Linked DNA regions of Homo sapiens: regions 2 and 3 are each linked to region 1. The links come from fine-mapping of genetic effects on gene expression. A gene starts in region 1. Each other region holds a variant in brackets. All regions are shown on one strand. Distances are between the middles of the regions.

Evidence for each region.
Region 2: its variant is fine-mapped to the expression of DPH5 in whole blood (INTERVAL, PIP above 0.99).
Region 3: its variant is fine-mapped to the expression of DPH5 in whole blood (INTERVAL, PIP above 0.99).

The regions. Positions count from the first base shown.
Region 1 is chr1:101,021,908-101,030,097 of GRCh38, forward strand. It overlaps DPH5 (diphthamide biosynthesis 5), which reads right to left and starts at 3,877. Exons shown (of 8, transcript NM_015958.3): 1 at 3,776-3,877; 2 at 3,402-3,559. The coding sequence starts at 3,536. DPH5-DT (DPH5 divergent transcript) reads left to right here and starts at 3,939. Exons shown (of 5, transcript NR_109849.1): 1 at 3,939-4,154. RefSeq lists enhancers at 3,407-4,606, 3,699-3,808 and a silencer at 5,600-5,659.
Region 2 is chr1:100,776,920-100,785,109 of GRCh38, forward strand. No RefSeq gene overlaps it. Among named protein-coding and RNA genes, the nearest start is that of VCAM1, 61 kb to the left of the region's middle. The variant A/C (reference allele first, on the strand shown) is at 3,333.
Region 3 is chr1:100,719,174-100,727,363 of GRCh38, forward strand. It overlaps VCAM1 (vascular cell adhesion molecule 1), which reads left to right and starts at 569. Exons shown (of 9, transcript NM_001078.4): 1 at 569-751; 2 at 1,303-1,578; 3 at 3,847-4,167; 4 at 5,451-5,717. The coding sequence starts at 688. The variant T/TA (reference allele first, on the strand shown) is at 4,247.

The DNA of each region.
Region 1 (8,190 bases):
CATTCAATACAACTCATCAGTAAGCCAGTACTTTATGTCATGTTGCAATTAAACTCTGTATTTGGGGCTGTCTTAATATCCCAAAGGAGGCGGAACTCTTAACATCTGAGGCTTTTTGCATTTTAAATTTATTTCTAAATTTGGTTCTAAAGGCCAAATAGAACACTGTAGGATGAATGCGGAATATGTACACATGAGCCCTACTTCAGAAACATGATGTAATACAGAATAAATATATTAAACAATAAGTTTAAACAAACATGGTGGTTTAGCTTTTATTAAATTTTCAATGGTTAAACATATGGCAACTCAGCTAGAAAAAAAAGGCAGCACCAATGAGAAACAATAGAAAATTAGCTGTTTACAGAACCAGTGAACATTCCTACATAAATGCAGAAGATACTAATTTAAAACTATATTCCTTAGTTTCTGCTAAAAAGGCAGAGTTGCAGGAGCAGTAACTGAATTCTAAATATGTAGGAAGTTTGCAAACAAACTGCTTTGTGATTTAATTCCCTGCAGCTCAACTCTAGAGAACAAATCCAGTAGAGAGTGAGCTAGTAAGCTAGTAGTCATCTGATAGTGGTTACGGGCTATTATGCAAGATCATGAATCCTTTTCTTTTTTTTCATCTCGTCAGCCAGTACAGAATGAAGGATCATGAATCTTAAAACTGATTTCCTGAGAAGTAATAAGTAATTCAAATGGAGTAAAACTGGATGCATAGATAAATAATACGGTTTCTTACATACTGAGAACTTTGAGTGAGTTATTAAAATTTATAAGGATTGCTGTAGTGCAACGGTATCTGGTACTCAATAATATCTGTCAAACAAATGAGTACATGAACAAATTATTAAGCAGGGCAGGATCCAGCATTGACCATTTTGCTTGAATCCTACCTTCTCTGTAGGTGTTCTGTGAAGTTAAACTTTGTGTAGCTATTATCTATCCTTAAGAATACAGAGACACAGTACAGTGTAGAGGTCAAGAGTGGTAGACCTCGGCCGGGCGCAGTGGCTCTCACCTGTAATCACAGCACTTTGGAGGCCGAGGCAGGTGGATCACCTGAGGTCAGGAGTTCGAGACCAGCCTGGCCAACATGGTGAAATCTCATCCTACTAAAAATACAAAAATTAGCCGGGCGCAATGGCACACGCCTGTAATCCCAGCTACTCAGAAGGCTGTGACAGAAGAATTGCTTGAACCCGAGAGGCAGAGGTTGCAGGGGGCCGAGATCGCACCACTGCATTCCAGCCTAGGCAACATAGCAAGACTCCGTCTCAAAATAAAAAAACATAATAAATAATAATAATAATAAAAAGAGTGGCAGACTTCAACTCAGGACTGCTTTGGTTCATCTCCTGGCTCTATCATTCACTATCTGCATGAACTTAGGCAAGTTTGTTAACTTCTCTATCCCTGCAAAATGAACAGTAATTAGAATAATAATCCTAATCTACATGTAAAGCATTTAAAACAGTGCACAGTAACTGTTCTGTAACTGTTCTATAAATGTCAGTACTTATTACTGTGAAGAAACAGATATTCCAGCACCTTAACAAAGTACACATAATTTACTGTAGGTAAGGCTGGGTCCAGCTTCAGGTCTTGACTCTGTAAGTAGTAACTCCAGAAGTTTTGTCTTTGGAAAAAAATACTTTACAAAATAACAGCAGCCAAAATTAACATTTAGCTAGCACTGAAAATTTACAAAGCACTTTCATATACATCATCTCAATAAAACACTACATAACCCTCCAACTGGTAATTGCCACTTGACAAATGAAGAAACTGAGGTTCAGAGAAGTTTGGAAATGTGAACATTGACAATTTCTATTTCTGAACAGTTTTGTGCCATATACCATAGTTAAGAACCTATGCTAAGAATTATGCTGAACACCTAAAGTAGATGTTTTTTACCCCATTTAAAAAAGACACTAAAGTTAAAGGACTTGTCCAAGGTCACATTAACATGTAACAAAGATAAAACTATAACCAAACTTTCCTCTATGCCATCCCCTGATATCTCATTCTATCAAACTGCTGTTTTGTTATTTGTCTGTCTTTTCTTGAAGGTGTTAAGTTCCTTTTACTTTTCCTTAATCACTGATTAGAGACGCACATTTCCATCATTTCGAGCTTAGATATTTTGGTTCTATCCTAAGAGTGAAAAAATGAGAAAAAAAAATGTTTTTTAAATCAAAGCTGGCCTTAGGCTGGGTGTGGTTGCTTGTGCCTATACAATCCCAGCACTTTAGGAGGCCGAGGTGGGCAGATCACTAGAGTCCAGGAACTTGTGACCAGCCTGGGCAATGTGGCAAAACCCTGTCTCTACAAAAAATACAAAAAATTAGCTGGGCATGATGGCACCCACCTGTAGTCTCAGCTACTCGAGAGGTTGAGGTGGGAGGATACTTGAGCCCAGGAGGCTGAGGCTGCAGTGAGCCATGATCATACCATTGCACCCCAGCCTGGGCAACAGAGCAAGACTTATTTTCTCTCTCTCTCCACATATATGTATATATCAAAGTTGGTCTTTACACACAACTTTTATTTAAATGCATGGCCAATTCAAGTAGCAGTTCTTAATTCCTTCTATAAGATTTTAAAGTAATCTGAGGCCTAAAAATTTTAAGTCTATTTTTTGTTTGGAAGACATGACAATAAATCTGCTCCCTCCTCCCATAACATATGTATTAATCCTTTGATTTACATTCTACTTAGAGTTTGACAATGAACCTGAAGTTGACCCTTCCCCCAAATTTACTGGGCCCTTATGAGGGCCAACTATAAATGTATAATATACTAACAAATACTTTGGTTACTTAGTGTATACTCATGTAAGTGTATACTCATACATTTTTATATATTAAGTCCAGGCTCACTCAATATATACAAGTGTATCAGTATAAGCCTTATTGGGAGATAGTCTATTTAAGATAAGATCTCTCTGGATAGGATACAAAAAGGCAATCGCCATTCCCTATGGACACACTTCAAAGGGGGAAGCTTTCAGCTTGGTTTTTGAATATATATAACCAACTCATTAAGGCTGTGTCAGCTCCTCATTAGCACTCAACTCAGAAAGGGTTTCTTGACTACCTCATGAAATAAGGGGTTTTGATAACTATCCCCCAGGAGTATAAAATAGCTTTCCTATTTACTGGAGAAAGCCACAAAATTAGACTTGTAAAATAGGACAAAGCACCCTTTCATTTTCCAAGTCACTTGGTTGGTGTAAAATTTCCATTCTTCTGCTCCTCAGATCATTAATGAACAAGGGATGCGTTTCAAAGGGTTTAAACAAGCAGACCTGAAAATTCTGTTCAGCTTAGTGTATGAAAATCAGATGTTAGATAGCTTTCTTCCCAGGAGGCTGGGGAACGCTCAGCACCTACCAAGGCTTCCTTCCCTACAGTTAGGACTGAGGTGTAGGCTTCCAGATACACTCGACTGCAGCGTCTAACAACTTCCAGGCCCTTGACTGTGATGTCCTTGGCATCTCCCAGGCCCAACCCGATGAGATAAAGCATTTCAAACTTGAGGAGAAGAGAGACTGCAAGACGAAGTGGACAGAAAAACCGTCAGTAACACCGAGGACATCTAAAATCTAGTGATGAACACGATGACAACCAAAGTAGCACAAGAGAAGAGGCAAGTCACAAGGAGGGGTTTGGGAACCTTATGTCACGCTTAAGAACTGGGATAAGAGGTTTTAAACAACCCTACCAGTTTTGCCTCTTGTTACACAAACCTAGGAGCAGCCAATTACCCGCTGAGAGAATCGTAGGTAGTTCTCTGGCCTTTACAAATTCTTAACTACCACCTTTCCGCAGAAGCAACTGCAAAAGCGCCGGCTCCGTGCAGAGAAAAGGCCCACGCCGCCGGCCTCACCTACGGTGCCGCAAAATGCTGGTGCCTTTACTGCACTTTACGACTAGCGGGAGGGGGCCGGGCTAGCGGGCTACTGGGCTGCGGAGACCAGAGCCCGGCTCCACTGAAGAAACCCGCCGGCTGCTGGGGCAGGGCGGCGAAAGGTCAGTCGGCCGAGAGGAGTCCGTGGAGCCACCGTTTCATAGCCTCAGGGAAAGGATCGGGCGTGCTCACGAGCCCTCTAACCCATGGCTTAAACACCCGCTTCCTAAGCCTGGGTAAGTGCAGTAGCTCTTCGCTCGAGAGGAGCCACGTGGAAGAGAGTCGGGAGGGGCCCTGCGCCCTACTCCTCCTCTCCAGAAACAGGGAGGGCTGGGAAGGATTTTCCTGATTTGTCCCCGGATTTGGCCGAGTGCACAGATTTTAATTCCAGTCTTCTCATCCTCCTGTAGTTCAACTAGGTGTCTTCCTGGTGAAGCGTGAGATTGGCAAACCCAGCAGTGAGTGTGCTTCTGATTTCCCAACAAGGCAATGACTCCTTGGGTTTGTCCCCAAGACCTTATGCCTGGAGTGCCCCAAGGATGTTTCAGTCACCCTCAGTGTCAGGAATCCCAGACCTTCCTGTACCTAAAGAAGTGACCTTTAATAGTGCTCAGGGATTTCAGACCTCTCAAGTGTTTCTGCCGGGGGAATTCTTATAAAGCTGTTGGTTACATGTAATTAGAAATAGGGAAGATTTGTTTTGACTGAAAATGCTCTTCCCAAGGTGACCTCATCCAAGTTAAAAAAGACAGCTGTCATTGCTTTTCTTAGCAGGCAGTGTTGGTTACTCAGAATTTTCCTGTTGCCTCCCCGACAATGCCCAACTCCGCTTCCTTGAACCTTGGCTTTTTTTCATTCCCAGGTTCCATCCACCTTTTTGCACTTCCTATCTATAAACTCTTCGTGGCTGTGTTTTATCCCCTCTCATTACGTTGATCTATTCCTCACACCACATACACACCCCAAAAAACTCAAAATGGATCGTAGATGTAAATGGAAAACCTAAACCTATACCAGAAGAAAACATAGGAGGAAATATTCGTGACCTTATTTAGGCAAATATTTCTTAAACCAAAAGCGTGATGAAAAAAATTGATAAATTGGACTTCAACAAAGTAAAAATTTATGCTCTTCAAAAGACTTGAAGCCACATACTGAAAATATTTACAAAGCATGTATCTGATGAAGGACTTGTATGGAGAATATATAAGGAGCACTCAGAAAGCAATAATAAAACAGTTCGTTGTTTAAAAATGGGCAAAAGATTTGAATAGACACCAAAGAAGATACACAAATAGCAAATAATTATTTTAAAAGATCTTAAACAAACAAAAAAAGATCCTAAACATCATTAGACATTAGGAAAATAAACATTTAAATCACAATGAGCTACCACAACCCACCTATTAGAATGGCTTAAGTAAAACAAACAAAACCTCACAAAAACTGGCTGTTCACTCAGAATTCCTAGTATCGCTAATATTTTGTAGATTCAAATTTCAGCCTCCTATCCAGACTTCCTCCCTCTTGGCTTCATGTTAACGTTCTGCTGGAAATCTTCACCTAGATAACCCGGAAGCATATTCAACACATCCAAGGTTGAATCCATCACCTTCCCTTTCCATTTTGCTTTTCTTTCCATATTATCTACTTGGATGGGTCGGGGGTGGGGGTGGGTGAGGAGAGTATTGTCATCAACAGATTAACCCCAGCCAGACACTTGGGAGTCACCCCCACATCGTCTGTCATGTCTGCCTGTATATCTCAATAGAAACCATACCGTCTATCACCATCTTGATTCTCAGGTCCTCATTTTGTCACTCTTGTAGCTGATAATAATGTCTCCTTCACTCAAGGGGGTCAGAGAGTTATAGTTAACAATCTGAAAATATTACACCCCTTCTAGATCCTTCTGAGGCCAAGAGAAAGTCCAGGTTTGTTAACATACCCCACAAGATCATTCGTGGTGTGGCCACTGCCTACCTTTTTAGCATCATCTCTCTCCACTCCATACCATGAGCTTTCTCGCTTTCTCTCCAGCAATACTGAATTGCTTGTAGTTCTCTGCCCACAACATGCTGCTTTGTTCCTCTACGCTGCTGCCTCATCATAGAATATTGTCTCCCATTCTCTCCTGCCTAGATCACTAATACCCATTCTTTAAGACCAAGTTCAGGAAGCCTTCCCAGAGACCCTCACCCCCCTAAGCTAATTTAGGTTTCTCCTCTTCATTACAGTATTACTCTACATATACTTACTAACCAATTTATGAGATTTTATATTTGTTCATTTGTATTTCTTCTTTACCAAACTATTGATTTAGTTAATTCAGGGACTGCATCTTATTTGTATGCTCATCTTAGGTTTAGCACTATCCCTTGCACATAATAGGTATTAAATAAATGTTTGTTGAATAAATCATTATTATCCACTAGTAGCTGAGCTACGTATTTTTCCATCTTTATTAATACAGAGGGTGGTATGTTTTAAAAAACTACCAAAAAAATCATTAATGGAATATCAAATATAAATATGCCTGTCTCATGCCACTTTAGAAGGTCATTTGTATTGAAAGGCTTGCAACACACAAAACATATAGTTCATATGCATGCTATTGAGTAGGTAAACACATTTTCCAATGTGTTGATCATTTATGTTTTTTGTTTTCAGATTTAAAAAAATAATAATTTCAGGTAGATTCACAGTGCAAGGACACTGCCAAAAAGGATGATTAAGTAATCTGAAGAAGGTGTGGTTTATCTCCTTTCAGGAAATATATCTATATTGAAAATAAAGTTATTCTGGGTAATCAAGGAAGTGAAACATTGCCTGAAATAACAGTAATAATTTGTTTTTAAGCTTCAAAATGTAGCCAGAGGAACTTAGTTTTACCACGGAGAATTCTTAACAAACAAACCTTTCACCTGCCGTTATTTCTCAATAAGAGTGTAAATTTTTTGTACTTTTCTGGAGGTAGACAGATAAAGGGATTATGGTAATCTTTTTTGTTTTTCCTCCTCAGCTCAACAAACATAAGCTGCAAAAATCTTGCCTATTGGATTTTGCAGAATTCTGTGGGATTTGGACATTTTTCCCTTGCCATTTAAAACAGGTTTCAAATGTGATTACATTTTCCCCAACAATTTATTGTGAAAAATTTCAAACATATAGAAAAGTTGAAACAGTGTCACAGTCAACACCCATATAGCCACCTCCAAGGTTCTAAAGTTTTAACATTTTGCTGTTTTTGCTTTATCACTTATTTATCCTTTTACCCAGATGTCAACCCATCTTATTTGTTGATGCATTTCCAGGGAAGTTGCAGCCATCAATACACATATTACATTTTGCTTGAAACATAAACTCCTCACCTAGGTAATAGATTAACAAAACATACCTAGGCATATAGCTGATTAAATGATATCATTGCTTCACCTAATTTAGGCTGGATTTTGAAAATTTTGCTGTAAAACGATTTCAAATTAGTTTTTAACAAATATTATAGTTTTATAATGATAATGAAAGCAGTTAGAGGACAAATTCTTTTATGTCAGCAAATTTGTAGTCTCATGTCTAGCAGAAGAGAGAGTGATGGTTAAAGAGAAAGGTGATTATAGGACAAAAGAAAAAAAGAAAGATTTTTAGCCTTTTTTGGCTTCAAGAATAACATGGATAGATTAGACCTGAAGAGTTTTCTACTTTGTATTCTTGCTTTCAGGTCAGATGATGCCAAGTCATCCCTGAGGGTGAACATTTATGCTTTTATGAAGGATCTTTAAGATGTTTTTATAACCTTTGCCAGTAACTCATTTTTACTGGCAAATTCTTCCTTATATTTGAGACCTACAGTCAGTAGTCATAAAATGTGAGAGAGATGCAGATAGTCATAAGAAATTAATACTGATGGCTTTTCCATTTCATTGTCATAGACACATCATATGCTACTTTTATTCTGAAGTAATAACATAGTTGAGTCACTGCATTACCTTACGGACAAATTATAATTACCTTACATTTAAGAGAAGTCATCCTTCAATTGTCCTGTTTAAGCAGTTTGTGTATTGAAAAGAAGACATCAGGGTGACTGACTAAACTCCATCTGACCTTACTGTGAATGAAGAATATTATTTTACTATGAAGCTGGCCTTTTAACCTACATGTTCCCAGAAATTGCCTTTGTTAGAGGAAATCTTGGTTAATATTTGTAGAGCTCAGACTCTTAATTGATTGAAGTCATTATTTTCTAACAATTCACAAATAAGTGATAATTAA
Region 2 (8,190 bases), 240 kb before region 1:
AGTAATAGATTTATTTTAGTTATTTTAAACAACTTTTTTACTAATCCAACATCTGGTCATTTCTATTGATTGATATTTCTTTTTTTCTGATGTTTTTTGTATCCCTATTTATTTTGATCATTTATTGGACATTGTGAATAATACAATGTAAAGAGCCAAAATTCTTTTATGTTCCTCTGAAGGGTGCTTGGTTTTGTTCTGGTGGATAGTTAATTACCTTAACTCATGGAAGATTGATTTTGGGGGGCAAATTTATTTTGGTTTTGCCTTTGATCTTAGAGTGAGTTCCTTTATCCCAGCATGTAGTCTTATTCCTAAGGCATGGTTTTTCTGGAGTTTCAGTTGAGAGCTCAAAATTATTACCAAGGTCTTCTAATTTGTGGGACTTAAACTTCAAATGCTGTTTGGAGGACAACAATTAAAACCTTTTGTTCAGCTGTTTCAGCCTTCAAGCTATTATCGGAGTATTGCCCATGCATGTGCAGTCAGAATTTAACCAATTGCTTGAGTTGATTTTATAAGCAAATTTTGAGGCTGCCCCCTCTATGAGTCCCCTTCTTTGGAGCTTCTCCCCTCAAATCTATTTTTTCTGGCAGTCTCAAACTCCTGCTGTGACTCCTCAGCCTAATAAGACTACAGCTCTCTGCTTGCATTCTGGCTACTCCACATTTTAAGGCCTAGGGGATGACCCAAAGAAGAAAGCTATAGAAATGTGCGTATCACCCAGCATGGTTGCCTTCTTTTAAGGGTCAAATCAACTTTTGCCTGCTTTTGCTTGCTCTGCAATATCTTCATTCAGTTTTGTTTTTCTTCAAATTTTGTCCAGAGTGTAGAAGTGTTGTCTGCACAAGGGTTGATCTTACACAGGCTACTCCAACATTACTGTAACCAGAACTCCATCAGAAGAGTTTGTGCTTTTATTACTGTTTTTGATATTAATGAAGAGCCTTCTTCTCAAAGAGGTGGAGGTCACTGATGAATATATTAAACCAAGATGTTTGTTTTTAAAGCACCTACCTCCTTTGTTAGTTAAAAATTGAGATTTTAGAATAAAACAAGCCTAGATTGAAATCTTTGATTTTTTTTTTCCCTCTTACTAACTTAGGACAAATTTCTTAACATGTTCCAGCTTAGTTGTCTTATTATAATGAAAATGATAACATTACTTCTTCAAGAAGTAGTTGAGGCCGTTTTTGTAAATCATTTAACCAATGTATCATCAATCCTTTTCATCAAGAATTCAAGTGCTCCATGTATATTTATTGCGGCACTATTCACAATAGCAAAGACTTGGAACCAACCCAAATGTCCATCAATGATAGACTGGATTAAGAAAATGTGGCACATATACACCATGGAATACTATGCAGCCACAAAAAATGATGAGTTCATGTCCATTGTAGAGACATGGATGAAGCTGGAAACTATCATTCTCAGCAACTACCGCAAGGACAAAAAACCAAACACCACGTGTTCTCACTCATAGGTGGGAATTGAACAATGAAAACACATGGACACAGGAAGGTGAACGTGACACACTGGGGCCTGTCATGGGGTGGGGGGAGGGGGGACAGATAGCATTAGGAGATATACCTAATGTAAATGATGAGTTAGTGGGTGCAGCACACCAACATGGCACATGTATACATATGTAACAAACCTGCACGTTGTGCACATGTACCCTAGAACTTAAAGTATAATAATAATAAAATAAAAAAAGAATTCAAGTTCTCAAATTTCCATATTTCTGCCCCATAAAATATGGAACAAATAACTTTTCTCTGAATAAATATTAATATATTTACAGATTTTTAATTTTTAAAAACTTTAACTTTAGTATTGCTTGTTTTTACATATGGAGAATCTTTACTGTCTATTGTTATCATCCCTACCACCAGCATGCACACATGCTCTAATATCTTTCAATATTAAAGTATATATGTATAAAATCACCCTAGTGGCACTTCCCCAAACAGTTACAACTCCATTTCTCTACTTTCCTTCACAGTGAGCTGCCACAGAAAGAATTGTCTATTTTGTCTACTTTTGCTATCTTCACTTCCTCAATTCCCATCATCTTTTAACCTACTCTAGTCATGCTTTTTCCCTCACCTTCTGCTTACTGCTGTCCTTGGGGACAACAGTGACCTGAAGGTTGCCAAAAACAATGGTCAATTCTCCTTTTACTGACCATTCACCACCCCTTTCTCCTGGAAATACTCTCTTCACTTAGATTTCCAAATACTACTATCTACCTGCTTTCCTCTTGCTTCACTGGAGACCCACTCCTGATGGCTCTGTATCACCTATCTAACTTCTAATTACTGAAGTGGTCCAGCACTCAGTCCTCAGCCAGCTTCTCTAGATACACTTACGTCCTAAGCAATCTCAATTAGATCCACGGATTTATATCCCATATATACTCTAATGACCCCCAACTTTTCTGACCACCTCTTTTCCTTTGCCCTCAAGCCTCACCTCTCTTAGTAATCCACATCTAGGTAAATAGCACTATGAATGCTGGAAATCATTATTGACTTTTCTTCATATCTCATATGATAAATTCATTTCATTAGCACATCCTGTTGGCTCTATTCTCAATTTATATCCCAAGTCTTCATCACCACCTCCATCTCTATCACTCTTTTTCAAGCCACCATTATTTCACATCTGAACAACTGAAATAATCACTTTAATGTCTCTGTTTCCATTCTTGTTCCCATAAAAAACTTTTCATAGCGCCCATAAATAAGTGTAAATCAGTGTAATCATCCATTTTCACACTGCTGATAAAGACACACCTGAGACTGGGAAATTTACAAAAGAAAGAGATTTAATGGACTTACAATTACATGTGGCTATGGAGGCCTCACAATCTTTGCAGAAGGTGAAAGGCATGTCTCACATGGTGGCAGACAAGAGAAGAGAGCTTGTGTAGGGAGACTTCCATTTTTAAAACCATCAGATCTCGTGAGACTTATTCACTATCACGAGAACAGCATGGGAAAACCTGCCCCCATGATTCAATTACCTCCCACTGGGTCCCTTCCACAACACATGGGAATTCAAGATGAGATTTGGGTTGGGACACAGCCAAACCATATCATTCCATCCCTGGCCCCTCTCAAATCTCATGTTCTCACATTTCAAAACCAATCATCCTTCCCAACAGTCCCCCAATGTCTTAACTCATTTCAGCATTAACTCAAAAGTCCACACTCCAAAGTCTCATCTGAGACAAGGCAAAACCCTTCTGCCTATGAGCCCATAAAATCAAAAGCATGTTAGTTACTTCCTAGATACAAATGAAGGTACGGGCATTGGGTAAATAC[A/C]GATGTTCCAAATAGGAGAAATTGGCCAAAACAATGGGGCTACAGGCCCCATGCAAGTCCGAAATCCAGTGGGGCAGTCAAATCTTAAAGCTCCAAAATTATCTCCTTTGACTCCATGTCTTACGTCCAGGTCATGCTGATGCATGAGGTGGGCTCCCATGGCCTTGGACAGCTCTGCCCCTCTGGCTTTCCAGGGTATAGCCCCCATCCTGGCTGCTTTCAGAGGCTGGCATTAAGTGTCTGTAGCTTTTCCAGGCACATGGTGTAAGCTGTTGGTAGATCTACCATTCCGGGGTCTGGAGGATGGTGGCCCTCCTCTCACAGCTCCACTAAGTGATGCCCCAATAGGGACTCTGTATGGGGGCTCCAACCCTACATTTCCCTTCTGTACTGCCCTAGCAGAAGTTCTCCTATGAGGGCCCTGTCCCTGCAGCAAACTTCTGCCTGGGCATCCAGGTTTTTCCCTACATCCTGTGAAATCTAGGTGGAGGTTCCCAAATCTAAATTTTTGATGTCTGTGCACCTGCAGGCTCAACACCACACGGAAGCTGCCAAGGCTTGGGGCAGGCACCCTTTGAAGCCACAGCCTGAGCTCTATGTTGGCTCCTTTCAGCCATGGCTGGAGTGGCTGGGATGCAGAGCACAAAGTCCCTAGGCTAAACACAGAATGAGGACTCTGGGCCTGGCCTATGAAACCATATTTTCCTCCTAGGACTCCCAGCCTGTGATGGGAGGGGCTTCCATGAAGTCCTGTGACATGCCCTGGAGACATTTTCCCCATTGTCATGGTGAGGCTCCTGGTTACTTATGCAAATTTCTGCAGCTGGCTTGAATTTCTCCTCAGAAAATGGGATTTTCCTTTCTATTGCATTGCCAGGCTGCAAATTTTCTGAACTTTTATGATGTTTCCCTTTTAAAACTGAATACCTTTAACAGTACACAAGTCACCTCTTGAATGCTTTGCTGCTTAGAAATTTCTTCTACGAGATACCTTAAATCATCTCTGTCAAGTTCAAAGTTCCACAAATCTCTAGGGCAGGGGCAAAATGCTGCCAGTCTCTTTGCTAAAACATAACAAGAGTCACCCTTGTTCCAGTTCCCAACAAGTTCCTCATCTCCATCTGAGACCACTTCAGTCTGGACTTTATTGTCCATATCACTATCAGAATTTTGGGCAAAGCCATTCAACAAGTCTCTAGGAAGTTCCAAACTTTTTCACATTTTCATGTCTTCTGCTGAGCCCTCCAAACTGTTCTAACACCTGCCTCTTTCCCAGTTCCAGTCACTTCCACATTTTTGGGTATCTATAGCAGCACTCCACTCTCCTGGTACCAATTTACTGTATTAGTCCATTTTCATGCTGCTGATAAAGACATACCTGAGACTGGGAAATTTACAAAAGAAAGAGGTTTAATGGACTTACAGTTCCACGTAGCTCGGGAGGCCTCACAGTCATGGCAGAAAGTGAAAAGCACATCTCACATGGTGGCAGGCAAGAGAAGAGAGCTTGTGCGGGGAAACTCTCATTTTTAAAACCATCAGATCTCATGAGACCCATTCACTATCACGAGAACAGCACAGGAAAGACCTGCCCTCATGATTCAATTACCTCCCACTGAGTCCCTCCCACAACATGTGGGAATTCAAGATGAGATTTGGGTTGGGATACAGCCAAACCATATCAGTCAGATCACATCTTTCTCCCTTTCAAAGCCTTCCAATTATTTCCCAATGCATTTTGAGTAAAATCCAAATTGTACATTTAAGGTCCCAAATGATCTAGCTCCCGCTTGACTCTCCCACCTCTTTCATTCTTTCCCTGATTACTCTACTTCAGCCATTCTTGCTCTGTTTAAAATGTGCCAAGCTTGTTTCCACCTTGGATCTTTGCACTTACTCTTCCCTCTCCTTGGAACATCCTTCCTTTGGGTCATATCACGGTTTGTTTCTTCCCTGCCTTCTAAATTCTGCTTAAATTGAACCTCCTTGTGTGAGGCCTTTCTGATGCACTCCATCCTAAGCAGGTTCTCACACAACCATATATTGTTACCCTCATCCTTTATCCTGCCTTGTTTTTCTTCATAGCACATATTACTTCCTGAATTTACACTATGTATTTCTTATTTACTTATTATATGCTCCCCCACTAGAACATCAGTGCCTTGAGAACAGGAGTGCTGTCTTATGTTATTGCTGCATCTCCAGGCCCTAGGATAAAAGCTCAATAAAGATTTGTTGATTGTGAGATGATATTTAGATATAGTTTTCTCATTGTTTGGTCTAATTACCTACTAATTAACTAAAATGAGAAAATATCTCTACTTTTGCAAAACAGAGTTGTCAAAAGACAAAATTTCAAAAAATTGAGTTTAAAGATCTAATTGGCTTTTATTAGTGATTTCATGAATTGGCCAGCATTCCATCTATAAAAATAGACAGATGCTCTGCTGGGCATAACAGAACAATCAGTTTTTATAAGGTAGCTTGAACAGGAACAAGGAAAGAGCATAATACAAAAAAAGTGAAGTGGTTAACATCGAGTTAGTTAGGTTTCTTTCCTAATAAGGGTTAAAGCAGAGGGGACTTCCTTACCATGCTGGCTCAGGTTGACTGGGCCCTTTTTGACCAGCTACTGGAAATCTCCTGTTTTAGGAAAAACTGGTCAGTTTAGGGATTTTCCTGCTTCACTTTGATTATGTGTCACTTAGCCTGAGTGACTGCATTTTGGTTCAGTCTGTTGGGGTCTAGTGGAGGAACTGAGTCCAAAACAATGACCTCCTATAAATTTTATTCAGCAAAGTTTTGTTGTGTTTTATATTCTCAACTGCTAAACGGTATTAGAAAACATCTTGAAGAGCAAACCTATTTAGCCTAAGAAATAAACATATGATTTTTTTTTGTTTCCTGTAAGGAACGCTAATGTCAAGTACAACTTCCATGAACTTCTTGTTTGGCTCTTTGCCCTTCAAATGAAAGGATATAGGGAATTTTCTACTTTTTCGGTTCACATTGTACTTCTTGTTTTCATAAATGCTGAATTCATTCTGCAATCTGCCCATGAAGCATTAATATGTTAACTGCCTAATCAGTGGATTTGCCACAAGACTTTCAGGTTTAATTAAATAGGACTTATCCAGTCTACTCAATGTGAAAGCTTCACTTAAGAATCTGTAATCAACTTATCTAAATCTGAATTATTATAGGGCCCCTTCTTATATTTAACTTCATGTACATAGGTTTGGATTTAGCTTATCATTTAAAAATGATCTGAGGATGTGAATTGCTTTTTTATTGATGTACTTGATAATATACATATCAGTGTTAATTAACATTAGAAAGGGAAGCACTAGATTATAGCTAACATTAGAAAGACAAGCACACTATTGTATCATAGTGAGATACTTTTCTAAATATAAGTTCCTAATTCATTGTAACTTTGATGGTATTAATATATTTTTCTGAGTAAATGATAACAAAATATGGATGGATACTCTTTCTCCATGCAGGTAATTGAACTTAGAAACCCTTACTCCAAGATGTCTCAATGGGCATACAGGTGAACCTTATGTGGTTTATTCCAAGAGAGAATAATATTTCAAATCATAGTTTCTATGTGTTGAAAACACACTGGCTTTAGAGTTAGAAAGCTCTTAGATGAGATTCTAATTTCACCTTTTTCTCTGTGTCATTGATATATTGTCTGTATCTAACATATTAACTCTGTTCACAGTTTTAAAATATAAATGTTTGTTTTTCTGATGATAAAAGTAATTGTGATGGTTAGCACTGAGTGTCAACTTGATTGGATTGAAAGATACAAAGTATTGATCCTGGATGTGTCTGTGAGGGTGTTGCCAAAGGAGATTAACATTTGAGTCTGGGGGCTGGGAAAGGCAGACCCACCCTTAATCTGGGTTGGCACAATCCACTCAGCTGGCAGCTCGGCTAGAATATAAGCAGGCAGAAAAATGTGAAAAGAGAGACTGGCCTAGCCTCCCAGCCTACATCTTTCTCCCATGCTGGATGCTTCCTGCCCTTGAACATCAGACTCCATGTTCTTTGGTTTTGGAACTTGGACTGGCTCTCCTTGATCCTCAACCTGCAGAGGGCCTACTGTGGGACCTTGTGATCATGTGAGTTAATACTTAATGATACTTTACTTAATAATGCTTAATAAACTCCCACATATATATCCATAACTAATGGAATATATATATATATGTGTGTGTGTGTATATATATATATTCCATTAGTTCTGTCCCTCTAAAGAACCCTGACTAATACAGTAATACGTGGCCATTATAGAAAAATTTGGAAAAAACAACAAAGAGAGAAAATTGTATTGAGTCTAAAACCCCCAAGTAACTAGAATTAGCCACAGTTGCTGCTTATTTATCAATCCATACATTCTTATGTTGTTAAAATATGCTAATATCTTAAATTTTCATTATGCATTATATCATATTTCCTGACCTATGTTGGTAATAAGAAGTTCCATAAACATTTTTAGGACTACATAATTCTTCATGGCATATATATGCCATAATATAACTGCATTATCCCCTAATATTTGACAGTTTGGCTCTAAATTTTAGATAGTCTAAATGATATTGAAGTAAGTAATTTTATGAATAGATTTTATCAACAGTTTTGATTATTTATTTAGAAGATACTAATAAATTAAAATACTGAAAGAAAGCATCTTGTTACATACTGCTAAACTACATTTCAGACCAGTCCTACTAAATTATACTTCTAACAAGATTGGATGAGAGGGCTCATCTCAACACATTGTCATGAGGACTATCACAAAAAAAGTTGTGCAAATGTGCTGGATAGCAGCGATGTCATGTTACTT
Region 3 (8,190 bases), 300 kb before region 1:
GTTTGTTGCTAAAAGAACTATTTTTATGAATAAATATAAAACTAAGAAGTTATGGTGTCCCTTTTTTAAAAAATGACTCATCAAAAGAAATAACTTTTTCCTTTCTCTTGTAAGAGAAAAAAATTAATCTCTTTTAGAATTGCAAACATATTTCCTTGATGGAGAAAATCAATTCACATGGCATAGTCGTTATTTATCCAGTTCAAAAACCAGAGTAGAATTTACTACTCTGTCTCCATTTTTTCTCTCCCCACCCCCTTAACCCACATTGGATTCAGAAAGCTTCATTCTGCAATCAGCATTGTCCTTTATCTTTCCAGTAAAGATAGCCTTTTGGAGTCGAAGATGAGGAAAAGCCTGTATTTTATAGTCTTGGAAGTGTCTTCTTTTGCCAGGACAGAGAGAGGAGCTTCAGCAGTGAGAGCAACTGAAGGGGTTAATAGTGGAACTTGGCTGGGTGTCTGTTAAACTTTTTTCCCTGGCTCTGCCCTGGGTTTCCCCTTGAAGGGATTTCCCTCCGCCTCTGCAACAAGACCCTTTATAAAGCACAGACTTTCTATTTCACTCCGCGGTATCTGCATCGGGCCTCACTGGCTTCAGGAGCTGAATACCCTCCCAGGCACACACAGGTGGGACACAAATAAGGGTTTTGGAACCACTATTTTCTCATCACGACAGCAACTTAAAATGCCTGGGAAGATGGTCGTGATCCTTGGAGCCTCAAATATACTTTGGATAATGTTTGCAGCTTGTAAGTTATTTCCCTTCATCTGTTTCAAATGTTAGCATTCAATTTTAGCCCTGGTTTTGGCTTCAGTCAGTTTTGCGATAGTAGTGAAGTAAAGACACTAGGATTTTAAACAGTAGGAAAAGTTAATTTAGTCTAACTTTTAATATGCAATTGAGTTTTGCTATATACCATTGTACTGTCATAGTTAGAGCTGAAAATTGATGTTTTTGGTATCTTTTTTTCCAAAGGCAATTGAGTAATTTGGATTCTGTCTCTAGTCGGTCTGTCTCTTTAGTTTCCTATACTTGACAATGAGGTCAAACTTAGCAAATAACAAAACAGCTTTGATAAATGGGCATCAAGGTTGGAACTGAGAATTCTCTCTACTGAAGATGATTCCATAAACTTTTTTGGCAGTGACTTCGGTGCTTTTTGGCTACCTTGCAGTTAGTTTGAAGCAGCTTAGGAAAGAGATCAGTCTGATCATATTTTAGACATTATACAGAGAAGAAGGAGGAGAATACTAGACAAACTAGTGGTAAATTTGCTTCTGTCTTTTTTTGCTTTTGCAGCTCAAGCTTTTAAAATCGAGACCACCCCAGAATCTAGATATCTTGCTCAGATTGGTGACTCCGTCTCATTGACTTGCAGCACCACAGGCTGTGAGTCCCCATTTTTCTCTTGGAGAACCCAGATAGATAGTCCACTGAATGGGAAGGTGACGAATGAGGGGACCACATCTACGCTGACAATGAATCCTGTTAGTTTTGGGAACGAACACTCTTACCTGTGCACAGCAACTTGTGAATCTAGGAAATTGGAAAAAGGAATCCAGGTGGAGATCTACTGTGAGTGCTTTAGAAAATCTTTGTTTTTCTCTCAATTTTACTTTAAAATCACTTTTTAAAAATGATATTTTAAAAAAAGTTTTAAAATGGATATTCATGTACAGATTCTTGGCTAAAGAACATACAACATCAGGAAAGCTAGGGACAGCTAAGGCCAACATGAGAGAGAGCAGGAATCCAAATCTTGGCTTCTATTTCTACCTCTGCCACAAACACAGTGACCATGTATAAGACTCAACCTCTCTGGGCTCTGGTTTCCTTAGCTGTAAAATGATCATTTCTAAGTTTCTTTTTGTTTTATTAAAAAATATTTCCATTTGATTACATCCTTACATGTTTACTTGCTTATGTGTCTGATTGATTTATGAATTCCATCCTTCAGGGATTTTCTATTCATTTATTCTTATGCAATTTGATGCTTAAAATTAGTTTAAACATTAAGTAGATCTATAATTAGTAATATGTATTAGTATAAAAGTGTTCTTCTTAGACATAATTGTTAATATCTGGAAACATTTCAATCATTTGACTTTGGTGTTGACACATTTAGGATTTTTTTTTGGTTTTTTTGGTGCCATGAAGCCTTGGTGCTCAACCGCTCAACTTCAAAGATATTTATATAATGAACTAGATTTGCCTCATGAAAGTGAGTGGATGTCCCTAGTTTACCAGCCTGACAAAATGCATCCCACTCCATTCTCCATTCAGCAAACAAAGTTAGCAAGAGGAGTAAAAAACTAACCAGACATAAATCATTTGCCTTTTGTTACTGATGGCCTCTCTTTCTAAAAAACTGAACCCATTTACGGTCATGTCTTCATGAAGACCTCATTTGATTATAATTACTTTGGTTTCGTTTTATTGTACCGGAGCTCAACTTTTCCCAGTAACCTTAATTGATTCTGCAACAAACCGCATGTGTTGCTCAAGCTTCCCAAGAAACTGTGCTTGGCCGGCTGCTTTCAATTATGCTGGTTGTATGTGCATAGTTTATGTCTGTGCAGCCTCCCGAGCTCCTTGAAAGCTTCCCTTATGTAAATACAGGGAAAAGTAGCAAGTTCTTATGTTACCTGACATCGAACTGTGTGGATTAGAGGAACATTTCTTACAGAATATGAGGGACAGAAATTATTGCTGGAAAAATGAAAAATACCATGTTTCTTCACATAGGAAAGAATTTCCAGCTCCTTTGTCTTTTGCCCACTAGTACCAAATAGTTGAAGATTTAAGAAAGAGAAATGAAGACGCTTCTGGTTTTAATTATCTTGCCTGAGGTTTTTCTCCAAGAGTGTCTGTTTCTCATTATGTATAACAGTTCTGTCTCCTTTCCGCATTTGATTGTAATAGTGGTTAGAGTTGAGACCTTTGTATTCTTTTTGCTACACAGTTTTGAATCCACCAATATGTTACTTCATCATAATGCATAATGAAAAAGGTAACTCTTGCAAAGGAGGCAATGGCCACGTGAAGTAGTGTATTTCCTTGTACTAGAAGCTTCAATGGAACACTTGTTGGGATAGTGAGTTAGGCATTTCAGGAGGCAAATATGTGTTCCAGAACATAAAGATTGCACAAATGTATCTTTCTGGTGGATGAATTCCTGTCAGAGGCACCATTTTCAGAAGCTAATTACTTAAAGTTGGTCTTCTCATTTCTTAGAATATCTTGACAATAACTATTCTTTGCAATGACATTCCAAGGCTTACAGTCATTATCTGTAAAATGGAAATATATCTGCCCTGACTATAATAAGAAAATGTGATGTAACATAATGTAAATCTGTAGTAGCAAAACACAATAATGGAAATCCTGAGTTTAAATCCCAGCTTTACCATTTACTAGGTGTGTGACCTTAGACAAGTTATGTAAATGTACTAAGTCCAGGTCTTCTTTTCTGTGAAATGTGATCTCTATCTCCTAGAGTTATTGTGAGGATAAAATGAAATCATTCATGTTAAATCTATAGCACAGTGACAGCCACATGTAAGGTTCAATATAAACATTATTTTTTCTTCTTTCTTTTACTGTAATAACATGCAACTCTTAATATATACAGGATCAGAATTGAATAATGTTGTAAAAAATGTTTGCTTCCAATTCTTGTGCCTTGAACTCACCCCAAATCATGAAAGGCTATTCAAACAGTTCTGTCGTATTAAGACTGTATTAACAAAAACGCTAGACTTGATTTGTATTGTGTTAAAGTGGTAAGAGACCTTATATCACATTAGCAAAAAGCCCATCCATGTATTTGTTTGGCCTTTTCAGCTTTTCCTAAGGATCCAGAGATTCATTTGAGTGGCCCTCTGGAGGCTGGGAAGCCGATCACAGTCAAGTGTTCAGTTGCTGATGTATACCCATTTGACAGGCTGGAGATAGACTTACTGAAAGGAGATCATCTCATGAAGAGTCAGGAATTTCTGGAGGATGCAGACAGGAAGTCCCTGGAAACCAAGAGTTTGGAAGTAACCTTTACTCCTGTCATTGAGGATATTGGAAAAGTTCTTGTTTGCCGAGCTAAATTACACATTGATGAAATGGATTCTGTGCCCACAGTAAGGCAGGCTGTAAAAGAATTGCAAGTCTACAGTAAGTACTTGTGCGATGTGTTCCAGTCTTTGTGGGAATCCCACCTTGGTTGTGTATAGCAATAAACTTAGCAGAAAAG[T/TA]AAAAAAAAAAAAAACTTGTATATAGTTTGTATTCCATTTGTATTCATTCACAACATAATGTTTGTCAATAGTATAATTCAGTGAAAAGAACACTGGATTTGGACTGAGAAGGCTTGAGCTTAATTTCTGGCTCTATTAACTGTGTGAGTTTGGGTTACTTAATTTCTCTATTTCCCAGTGTATAAAAGGGGAATAGTAATACCACCTGATTGGGTAGTGGGAAATAGGCTCAAATGATAAAACATTTTAATATTGTTTTGTAAACTCTTATAGTATGCCTTGAACTATTAGTTGCACAGGTACAGAAACTTGACAAGGTGATCACTTATTCTGTGTGTGTATGTGTGTGTGTGTATGCATATGCACATACATACATAGGTGCACTGGACAGGGGAAAAATGACGGGGTTTGATTGCCTCCAATCTCCCTGATACTGCCAGGGGATTTGTGGGAGTCTTGTAGTCCCAGCGTTGTGTAGGAGTGGCCTCACTGTGCTCTGTTCTGGACTAAAATGCTATGTTCTGCACTGGGTACCACATTTAAAGGGAGTATTGCCAACTACGGCATGTTTAGCTGAAAGAGAATGAGCTGGGAAGGCTTTTAACAATATTTTGAGAAGAATAGTCAAGATAGAGGATATTTTTCTGAAGAGAAAACAAAACCTGGCTGGAAAAGACATCTAATTAAGCATTTGAAAGACAGTTATATGAAAGAGTGATTTACCTTATTCTGTAACAGCACAGGGCTGAATTATGGCCAATATGTTTAAAATAGTATAGAGAGAAGATTTCAGCTCAATAGGGAGAAATGTGCTAATATGTAGAGCTGTCCAAAAATCAAATTGACTCTTTTGGAAAGCAGTGGGTTGATTCTCTCAGTAAATGTTGAAGCTGACTTGAATGGGCACTTGGCAAGAATGCTTAAATGGGACTCTTACCCTTAAGTGGGAGGTTAAGCCACATGGTTTTTCTTAATTTCTGAGTATCTACAACCATCTGAAAAATATGAAACATCAACTAAACTTGATCAGTTTAGTCAGAAACTGGATAGACTATTTTGAATGATTCAGCAGTTCTTTATACTAATTTGGCAGAGTAATTTCATCAAATTGGTGGAAGCACATAAATACTAAGAGAAATACATTACCTCTGTTGCACTGGGATGATGCTTAGCAATTGCTAATATTATTTTTTGCCCTTTCAGTATCACCCAAGAATACAGTTATTTCTGTGAATCCATCCACAAAGCTGCAAGAAGGTGGCTCTGTGACCATGACCTGTTCCAGCGAGGGTCTACCAGCTCCAGAGATTTTCTGGAGTAAGAAATTAGATAATGGGAATCTACAGCACCTTTCTGGAAATGCAACTCTCACCTTAATTGCTATGAGGATGGAAGATTCTGGAATTTATGTGTGTGAAGGAGTTAATTTGATTGGGAAAAACAGAAAAGAGGTGGAATTAATTGTTCAAGGTGAGTAGAATGTGAAAAAGGAATGATAAAGGTGCTGTCAGTGGGATTTGAGCAATAGTCAACACAGCTTCAATGCTGAAATTGCTTCCCTTAGTTTCACTGATGACCTATCTGATTGCCATATCCTTTAGCACAAATATATGTTTATCTTACTAGTACTCTGTGGAAGTCTTCCCTCCCAGAGTTTCCATGGCTCTGCTTTTCTGATTCTTTTTCATCTCATATCACTTTTTCTCTGCTTCATTCCCTCACTTTCTCTCTTCCTCCTTCCCCTTGGATATTGGTATTTTCAAGTTTACACCCCTGGGTCCTCTTCTGTTCTCACACTAGATTCCCAGGAATTGGACTACAATATGTTGATTACTCCCAAATTCATGTTCCAATTCCATGCTGTTAAATCCTGTCAGTTCTACCTCAAAATGCTCCCTGGAATATGACCTCTTCTTCACCCCACTTGCCATTGCCTTAGTTTATCATCTCTCACTTGGGCTCCTGCAAGATATTCTTACATAACAGCATTCGCTAAACACCAGATAGGTTTCTGGCACTTTCCATATGCCATCCTCAAGAAATAACTAAAAAGTAAGTATTTTGTATTCATTTTACAGATGAGAGAGTGGAATCTCCCAGAGATTAATAATGACACCACCTATTGATTGTACACCTAATATTTCCCAGGAATTCTGTATTCTGCTTTATATATTTTATCTCATTAATCTTTACCACAACACTATTAAAAACCCAGGCTCAGCATAGTTCATACTTTTCCTGGGGCTAAATAGCTCTTTAGTTGCATTTACTATGATTTTGATGCAGGTTCATTTTAATGAAAACCCCTTTGCCTTTTTAATTTTATAGCTAATTGTCTTTATTATTTCTTTTTTAAAATATTTTTAATTGATAAATCATGATTGTATACATTTATAGATTACAATGTGATGTTTGGTATAGGTATACAATGTAGAATGATTAAGTCAAGTCAACAAATCCATTGCCTCACTTGCTCTTTTGTGGTGATACATTTGAAATTCACTTTCTTAGCTATTTTTAAATATACAATATATTATCATTAACTATAGTCATCATGATGTACAATAGATCTAAACAACTTACTCTCCTGTCTAACTGAACCTTTGTATCCATTGACCAACATCTCCTTGTTCCCTTCCACTCCTCGCCCCAGCCTCTGGTAACCACCATTCTACTCTCTACTTCTATGACTTTAGAAGTAGATCCCACATATAAGTGAGATCAGGAGGTACTGGCTTCTCTGTGCCTGGCTTGTTTCACTTAGCATAGTGTCCTCTGGGTTCATCCCTTTTGTTGCAAATGACAGAATTTCCTCTTTTGTTTTTTAAGGCTGAATAATATTTCACATATTTTATGGCTAATTATCTTTAAATAGTCTCCCTGCTAAGATTCTGTCCCTAATATAATCAATCTTATGCACTGCTCCCAGGGTTTATTACCTTAAACAAAAAGGTGCTCATTTTCTATAACTTCCATCACATTTCTTAAAACTGTCACACAGAACTCTTTATGATCTGGTCAGAAACTACCTTTGCAGATCTGTTGATGACTCAGTGCCTCTGCTTACGCTGTTCCTTCTGCCTGAAATGGCCTTTCTCCTTCCTTCATCTGGCAAAATCTTAGCCATTCTCCAATATGAAGCTCATGTCAGCCTCCCAGTTCCAGACTGTGTCAGACCAAACTACATATTCTTTCTTTCGTGTACACTCAACACTCCTTATAGTCATGTATGCTATTCTGTTCAGTTCAACAAATATTAAGAGCCCTTGTCCAAGAATCCAAGAATTGTACTTGGTACTGGGGGTACAGATATGAAAAAGATATGACAACTGCCCTAGGGGAGCATACAAACTAGGAAGGAAGGACAGGCATATAAATAGGTAACGCAAATATTCCTTAGTAAGAGCCAAAATAATATATCTTTTTAAATGTGTCTTTCCACTAAACTGTAAATTCCTGCTCCGGGCACAATGGCTCAAGCCTATAATCCCAGCACTTTGGGAGGCTTAGGTGGAAGGATTGCTTGAGGCCAGGAGTACAAGACCAGCCTCGGCAATATAGTGAGACCTCCTGTTTCTATTTAATTTTTAAAAAATCTGTAAACTCCTTAAAATCAGGAATTCTGTGTGTGTGTGTGTGTGTGTGTGTGTGTGTGTGTGAATGTTTGGATTCTTAGCACAGTACCTAACACATAATAAATGTTCAGTAAATATTTGCTGAATTAATGAATAGATTATAAACATGGGCAGCATAGTCTTTTGTTTGTTTTAGGAAATGAGATCTTGCTATGTTGCCCACACTGAAGTCAAACTCCTAGGCTCAAGTGATCCTCCCACCCTAGCTGCCTGAGTAGCTGGGATTATAGGCACGTGCCACTACACCCAGCTCAACACAAATTTTTAAAATGTGAAAACATGGTATTTAAACTTGGATGATTAAAATA